2 separate regions of the Homo sapiens genome follow, and region 2 is linked to region 1. Evidence: fine-mapped expression QTL. A gene starts in region 1. The other region holds a variant in brackets. All regions are shown on one strand. Distances are between the middles of the regions.

Evidence for each region.
Region 2: its variant is fine-mapped to the expression of TRMT10A in anterior cingulate cortex (GTEx, PIP 0.98). The same link has a PIP of 0.9 or more in thyroid.

The regions. Positions count from the first base shown.
Region 1 is chr4:99,561,529-99,565,928 of GRCh38, forward strand. It overlaps TRMT10A (tRNA methyltransferase 10A), which reads right to left and starts at 2,511. Exons shown (of 8, transcript NM_001134665.3): 1 at 2,385-2,511. It also overlaps a transcript of MTTP not described here. RefSeq lists enhancers at 1,615-2,814, 2,050-2,179, 2,530-2,589.
Region 2 is chr4:99,466,856-99,471,255 of GRCh38, forward strand. No RefSeq gene overlaps it. Among named protein-coding and RNA genes, the nearest start is that of ADH7, 34 kb to the left of the region's middle. The variant A/T (reference allele first, on the strand shown) is at 2,414.

The DNA of each region.
Region 1 (4,400 bases):
TGCACTGAGACAAATGGAATGCAACAAAAATGATGCTAACCTGATATCTTATAAATTATTCCGTATAGTATACTTTACAAAGATATCTACCAACTCGCACTGTCTACACTATACAATAAGTATAATGTATATCTACACTGCACTATGTACTAGCGTGTTCAGATTACCTGTTAAGCAAAACAGCATTTTATTAGGTATACTTGCTTTCTAATTGTTTTAGTTTGGGCAATAATTTATAAAATTCCATGGCAGAGTTTTTCATTCCTTTCTCACATGCAGTGATGCTCACAGTACATTTTCATTCATTCAACCAAGTTCAACAAATGTTCAAGAACGTATTTTACAGTAACTATAAAAATATTTGTGTGAGGTCGGGCGCAGTGGCTCATGCCTGTAATCCCAACACTTTGGGAGGCTGAGGTGGGCGGATCACCTGAGGTCAGGAGTTCAAGACCAACATGGCGATACCTCGTCTCTACTAAAAATACAAAAATTAGCCAGGCGTGGTAGTGGACGCCTGTAATTCCAGCTACTCGGGAGGCTGAGGCAGAAGAATCGCTTGAACCCGGGAGGCAGAGGTTGCAGTGTGCCATGATCGCAGCACTGCACTCCAACTAGGGCAACAGAGTAAGACTCCGTCTCCAAAAAAAAAAAAAAATTATATATATATATATGTGTGTGTGTGTGTGTGTGTGTGTGAAATTTTACTCCTGCATAAAATTTTAAAAATTTGTGGGGTTCATTCGCAGACATAGGTTATTAAGTGGGCTTACAAACTATCTCACTTTGTAAGGCAAGGACACATCCTACATCAATGAGCACCAAAAGAAAAAAAAAAGTTTTTTAAAACTGCATTAAGTTATGGATTGGGATAAAATAAATAATCGTCGTTAATTTATGACAGTCTCCTTTTCAGAAAAATCTCAACGAATGTGGGAATAATGCAGATTGGAATTAATGACTTGACAGCGATAGCAAAGGAATGCCTTTTTTTTTTTTTTTTTTTTTTTTTTTTGAGAGGGAGTCTTGCTAGGTCGCCCAGGCTGGAGTGCAGTGGCGCAATCTCGGCTCACTGCAACCTCTGCCTCCCGGGTTCAAGCGATTCTCCTGCCTCAGCCTCCCGAGTAGCTGGGACTACAGGTGCGCGCTACCACGCCCAGCTAATTTTTGTTATTTTTAGTAGAGACGGGGTTTCACCACGTTGGCCTGGATGGTCTCCATCTCTTGACCTCGTGATCCACCCGCCTCGGCTTCCCAAAGTGCTGGGATTACAGGCATGAGCCACTGCGCCCGGCCTTTCTTGTTTGTTTGAGACGGAGTTTCGCTCTTGTTGCCCAGGCTGGAGTGCAATGGCGCAATCTCGGCTGATTGCAACCTCCGCCTTCTGGGTTCAAGTAGTTCTCCTGCCTCAGCCCCCCCAGTAGCTGGGATTACTGGCATGCGCCACCACGCCCGGCTAATTTTGTATTTTCAGTAGAGACGGGGTTTCACCATGTTGGTCAGGCTGGTCCCGAACTCCTGACCTCAGGTGATCCACCCGCCTTGCCCTCCCGAAGTGCGGGGATTACAGACGTGAGTCACCGCGCCCGGCCAGGAATGCCCTTTTAAAAGACATGCGGACTAAACGTGGAGGAGCGAAAAGCCCTTTGTTCACTTCAGTTGTCAAGCCTTTTGGGCAGAGGGTTGGGAATGGAAGGGGCAGATGAAATTCTTTCAGAAAGTGACAAGTAATGTGTTGCCATCCTCTTCATATCTGTAGAAAAATTCCCAAATTTAAAGTATTTCAGTGAAATCAAGTAACACTTCGATCTTTATAAAACTGTCCTCAGCTCACAGCACCTGCAGCAACTTCCCCTCGGGCTCTCTACATTTCAGAGAGTTCAGCGACGTCAGCCCTTTGCAGGAAAAATGAGGTAAGGCAGCTTTAAAGAGGTAAAGCCCACGGTCTCTAGCCACGAAGTGGCAGGGCCATAACACGCTTTCCGGCCCTTTAGAGTACAGATTTCCCACTGATTCTTTGCAAACTCACTTTTCACATACTACGGGCCGATGGCAACCCCAAAACACACGCCGACGGAAAGCGCCCCACCACGGGGCGGAGCCTCGCCCACTATCCCTTCTAGGCTCCCAGCCAGCAAACGCATTTCAGAGACGGGATTAAGCTGTCTCTGGCGAACCAGGGAGCAGCTGGGTAGGCCGCGGGGGGCGCCTGTCATCGACGTCATTTCCTTCAGCAAGAGCGCCGCAGGAAACCACTTCCACACCACTGCTCCCCTCTCCCCCGGAAGCCCTTGTTGCTAGTAGGGGGCTGCATGGCACGCGCCCCTTTGCGTCCAGAGAATACCATAGTGCGGGGGAGCGCCAACCAGTGCCAGGACACTTACCGAGCTGAAGAGTTGACAGGGAAGTGAAATCTCAGAAAGAAAGCCTTTCTGGGTTGGCCTGGTTACGGCTCACGCTTCCTTCCACAGAAACTTCAATTCCCAGAGGCAGGGGCGGTAGTTACGCAGTGGAGGCTACGGCGGTTGCGTCTTACGTCATCGAACTGCGGCCATTTCGAACCCGCAATGGAAGAAAGGGGAGGGGTTTATGCGGGGCGGGGTCTGGAGTTAGTGTTTTGGGAGTGGGAGGTAGTTACAGTGATGTCTGTTTTTTCCCGTTCAAGAATTAAGTGTGTACCTGCAGACGTGTATTCATTCATATATTCTTGTGAGTATTGGATGAAGGAATTAAGATAGTCCCACTGTTAAAAATGCAAAACAACGAAGAAAGGCTCCTAATTTTTCTGTGTTGAAAATGAGAGAAAAACATCTCTTGCCTATATTATTTTTAATTTATACAGAAAATTACCATATCACATGATTTTACATAACTCAAGTGGAAAATTAAATTCAAAAAGTGAGTCAGATTCACAATAAAATGCATTTAAATTTAGAATCTGTAAGGCTTTTTTATGGCTGAAGTAAAACAGCCATAGCTTTACTCTTTATTCATTCCTTGAGCTATTTTTCCTATGCTGTTTTGCAAAACATCAGATGACATTTCATTGTTTATAATACTTGACCTTATATAATCTTTTGCTATATATAGATCATGTCAACTGAGAGAGAAATGAAATACAACCCCGTAGATTGTCATTTTCTATTTAGTTTTTTTCTCCTCTACTTCTAATAGGTGATTATTGCAGAATTTGAAGGTAAGAATGAGGTTTGCATCTTGAATAGAAGACTGGCTTCTCATATAGAAAGAATTTTGAAGTAAATTATCCTTGAAGATATTTGAACATGTTTAAAGGCTTCAGTGAATAGAAAATTAAATCCAGAATTTGAGATTCTCTAAAAGAGCCGAAATTTCTTTGACTTTAGTTACAAAACTAAAGTCACTCTTGCCATAAGCCCTTAAATTTTACTTGAAACACTGTATCAGCTATAACACTGTTGTGAGTCCCTCTTCTGTTTCTTCCTCATCTCAAACCTAAAAGATCTTTGTTAACTGAGCACTGGCAAAAAAGTCTGGATCCACTTCTGATCTGTTAGTAGGGCATCTTTTTTCAGCTGCCTCCATATGAGGGCAAAGAGTAGCTGAGGGAGGATTAGTAATTGGATATGTAGCCCTTCACATGTAGGTCATTAAATTCAGGCTGGCAAAGTGATGTGCCAAATCTTTCCACAGCTGTTCAGTTGCTCCTATGGGATCTGTTTTATAAATAATTATACAGTTTTTTCAGAGTTAATACCTGGCCTCCTTAGATATTTTAAACAAAGTTTTAAAGCAAAAAAAACCACTTCATATTCTAATAATGAAGTCAATAAATTTTCTTTTGACATAGACATTTAACTTTGTAGTCATTTGGTGCAAAATTTAAAATGATTCTATTATTAATCCAAAGTAAGCACCAAAAGAGCACCAGCAAAAGTCAATTTAACAAAAAATTGAAACATATAGAAAGTTTAAGACGGTGAAATCATGTGAAACAATATTTTCATTGATTTGTAAAATTTATGTATTTATTTATTTGACACATGTATCGAGTTCTATGCGTTTTGTCTTAGTATTGGTGATACAGAAATGACGAAATCATGCTCTCTGTGCTTAAGGAATCCTTAATCTAATAGGGGAGCCAGCAGTAAATAAATACCATACAACATGTACTTGAGATGCTTGTACTTTGAAAGAAGCAACTAAATGCTCCTTGAGGCAGAGGACATAGTTTTGGAGATTAAATAATTTTGTTTCATCTTGGAAAGTAAGTAGGAGTTGTACAGGTGTCAGAAAAGTGAAGAAGTTTAAGATATTGGGAACAGTGAAAGCAAAGACCTAAGCGTGTCATAGTTTTGCACATGACTGAAAAGCTGTGGATAGAATGAGGAAGAAGGAGGAGATAATAACCCTAAGGGCTT
Region 2 (4,400 bases), 95 kb before region 1:
ATTTTCTTTCAGGCCTTTTCCCATAAGGTATAGAATATATATAGTACCCTTTATTTTAAGGAATTTTCTCTCTTCCATTTATAGGAACATGTTGTATCTGTTGATGATTAAATACCCTTGGGTGTCCTGGCTATTGAAAAATGATTATAAAACCTTTAGTGGCTGAAAGAAAATTATGATGAAGTCTAGAAGAGAATCCTCTGACTAGAAGAGATTTGGAAACTATATGTGAACGTGTACCCACTTTTGCTTTTCTCTTTTATTTTTAAGACAGCCAAAATGTGTGTGTGTGTGTGTGTGTGTGTGTGTGTGTTTGTCTGTGTGTTAACCTTCAAACAATTCACCCCACCAAAATGTTTTAAGCCTTGATTTTATGTTAATTCTTGGACTGCTGATGGGTTATTTCCCTTTATTTTAATTCTTGGAGGTGTGGTAGTGGAGGCTGCTTAAACCACTGTGTTGACACATCCTGCAGATGGGAGTTGGTGAGGAATTCTCTTGACATCGATTGCAGCCAGGCGTGAAGATGAATGGTACTCACAGCAGCTAAAATCTTTCCTTCACATTTTACTGTTTTGTGTTTTGTTAGTTTTGTTTTTTAAACTTCTTAAAAATACTTTTCATCAGGTAAAATAGCAATCTGGGTTTTGGAAAGACATCAATTATGTATGGCTATGTTCACATTTATACTAGAAATTATTGTCTTCTTAGTGCCTTAACCTCCAGAGAGCCTTTCTATTTATTTTTCCAAAAAAGAGCAGCACTGGATCAAATGAAGTGTGTTCCAAAAGGAACTATTCCATTAATCATACATTTTCCATAATTCTTATTGCAGGATTTCAGGGCAGTCAACTTGTTTAAGGTCAGAGAATGAAAAAGAGAGACTTTTTCATATAAAGACAGCATTTAATTATGGAGTCAGATTTGCTCCTGCTTAGCAATCCCTGGCAAAACCACTCTCCTCCCATTAGTTAAAATAATCTCTTTTTATCACAATCTGTCCATTAAAATAACCCCCTTTTGTGAGAAAATTACTTACAAATAAAAATAAATGTTCTGTGCACCTAGAAGATCCCTACGAAGTTTCAATAACTGAGTTTAAGTGCAGAGGATAGCACTTCAACAAAGAATCAAAAGGCAAAATAAACCATAGAGATAAGGCTCAGTGATGAATAGCAGTGCTGGAGACTAACTGAATATGTGCTGGAAGTCTCATTTTGCCTTTGTTTGCTGACAGCTGCATTTTCCAACCAACTCAAAGAGCAATGAAAAGAACTCTTTTTCCTGACTGAACTCTATGCAAATAGGGAACGTTATTTGGTAGTAAGATGAAGGATGGAAATGACCATGTCATCTTAGATGATTTCCTTCCTAATCATCAAGGAAGCAACATTAAGAAGAATCAGACTTATATTTAAGCTTTGTAAAGGCCAAATTTTTTAAAGTTTAGGAAAAATAGGTTAGAGCCCATGGCTATGTACTCAAGACAATAAGTTGTTTCAAAGGGGAGGAATATTTAAAGGATGAAACTCTGACAATGGATTCTGCAAATGATCTCTGTGAGGAAGAATAGGGATACACATGTAACGATTCCAACATGGCTGCACTAGAGCTCTTAAAACAGACTTCTCAAAGAAGAGAACAACAAATTAAAGGAGAGCCCTGCTATCCAGGATAATAAAATAGAGTCTCGGGACCTATAAGAACAGTGTCTCAAAACTAAAGACCAAAAGAATGACTTGAGACTTTCTTTTTTTAAAAAAAAGTTAAGGGCAAATAAGGAGGCTTTTAATGTGGTTAATGTTATAATGCTATGTCTCAAACAAGGAAAAAGGAAGAGAAAAGAGTAGCTAGAGAAAGCAGAATTACTCAGGTCATTTTTCTTACATCTTTTCAGTAAGGAAAACTCTGATAGGTCGATCATGGGTAGACTAAACATTAAGAAACAAATTCTAATACAGGTCAAATGATGGTAAAATAGCAAGTGGTAGGTTTGAATGCTGGCAAATTATATTCTGGGATACTAAAAGAACCTATCTTTCTGATTGTGGATACATTGAGGAAGGAGAGAGCTATCTAAAGGGTGAACATGAGAAACTGCCACTTTTCTGAAAGGGCAATGGCTGCCTTTTCTTGTGTGACATTTCCCCTCACTGGAAGTGTTAATGTAGCAACAGCAAGAAAGGGATTCCCTGCTCTTACATAGTGGCTGGATTAGATCATCTTAAAGGCCTCGTCCCAACTCTGAGAGGCTATTAAAAGCCAGATTCCCAGCAACTGATGGGTTGCTGTATTACTCCATTCTCATGCTGCTGATAAATACATACCAAAGACTGGGTAATTTATAAAGGAAAGAGGTTTAATGGACTCACAGTTCCACATGGCTAGGAAGGCCTCACCATCATGGTGGAAG[A/T]CAAAGGAAAAGCAAAGAGACATCTCATATGGCACCAGGCAAAGAGAGAGCTTGTGCCAGGGAACTCCCCTTTATAAAACCATCAGATCTCATGGCACTTATTCACTATCACCAGAACAGCCCAGGAAAGACTTGCCACCATGATTCAATTACCTCCCACTGGGTCTGTCCCATGACACATGGAATTATAGAAGCTAAAATTAAAGATGAGATTTGGGTGGGGGGACACAGCCAAATCATATTGGTTGCCCAACCATAAAATCTGCAATCTTAAAAATTACAGGGGGGAGTACACCTTGGTTTTAACAAAGCCTGTAACTTCAAATACTATGTTGTCACTCATTTCAATGAGCACGTGTCAGATAGGCTTCTCAAGATCCCTGGAACTAATAACATTCAGCAGCTCCCAGAGATATGGCCTTCTTAAATTTGTTTCTGTTGATGTCAATACCAATGATCCTGGAAGCACCAGTAGCTTTGCAACCCATAATAATAAAGAGACCAACTTCACCCAGGCCAAACACAGTACAAGTTAGAAAGAATTTGACCTAAATTATCAGAAGACACAGACATCCAAAGGCAATGCAGGCTGAGAAAGTGAGTGGACCCCATTCCACTGGGAAAGGGAGGTGATGTTTCTGGTCAATTTGTCTTTTTAAATTATTAAATCTTTCAAATAACACTTTCCTTTGAAAGGAACTTGAGAGCTTTATATGATGTACTACCAATCTCTAGACAACAGAGGAAAAGATTTCTTATAGGAATGTCAGAAACTAGTATTAGAATTGTCAAAATTATGATTCCCCTAAGGGCTTGGAGAGCAGTTTCCAATTTTTCTTTTTTAGGTTGAAGACCAGTTGAGTAGCAGTAGCTGTCGATGTAACTTTCTCCCTTTGGGCATTATATTTACATGAAGGAAGCTGCAAAAATTTTATTTTACCCAGCCACTGTGATTCAGTTTTTGGTGTCTACTTATGAGGTTGCCATGCATAAAAAACAGAAATATGTGGCTAAGAATTTCCTAGAAATGCACATAAAAATCTGTACTGACTGCATCTCCTTTAACCAAGGATACACATGTAATGATTCTAAATGATTCCATTCTAATGATTAGGCTAAACAATTCTAATAAAGTACGCATCCATAGAATCTATTTAGTAACTGTCATTCCTTATAAAGCCTTTATTCTCCTTTGAAATAACTGGAAGGGGGTACGAAATGTGACTAAGGCTCATAAAAATGAGAAAGGGCAACAAAAGGTAGCTGAATTGTTATCTTTAACCCGAACCTATTTACCTTTGTTTAGAAGAGGACAACACTTAGGTTCCATTATTGCACTAAAAAAAGCCAGTTAACTTATGCAATCTTCCTGAAAAGGGTGTTTTTTTAAAAAAATAACTTCTTGACTGAGAAGCCCTTGGCCCTTCAGGCAATTTCTGTTGAGACAGAAATGGTCAGCACCTTCAGTCATTAGTTCAGTGTCACTTCTTTTGGGGGATTGTCTATTCATGGTAGTCAACTGAGCATACACAATGCCCAGTTACCAATGGAGCATAGGCAGTTTATAAAGTTATGAATTTGTGTCAGACTTGAGAGTTGCAAAAATCAGTAGTATTAGGGGGTTTTATTTCTTGATAGATTTATTTGGGCCTTTAAAATTTGGCCCCAAATGTTGTAAGCAGAAATTCTTGTAGACAAAGGACAAATGAAAGAGCTGTCTTCTTTCCCTTTCTGTTCTCCACTTTAAGACAGCCCAGACTAGTATATGAGGGTATTTAAATTTCCTATACCAAAAGAGAAGACCAGCAAACTCTTTACTTTTCATATTCCAGTTTTCTTCAAAAAGCAAGCTTTCTAAATGATAATCTCCTAAAAATACCAGTTAAGAACAGATGCTACCATTTTGCTAGTACTTTATGAGAGAACTCCAAGAATCCTAATGAGTTGCTATCCCACTCTCAACACTTCCCTTTACTCCTGTTTTCCA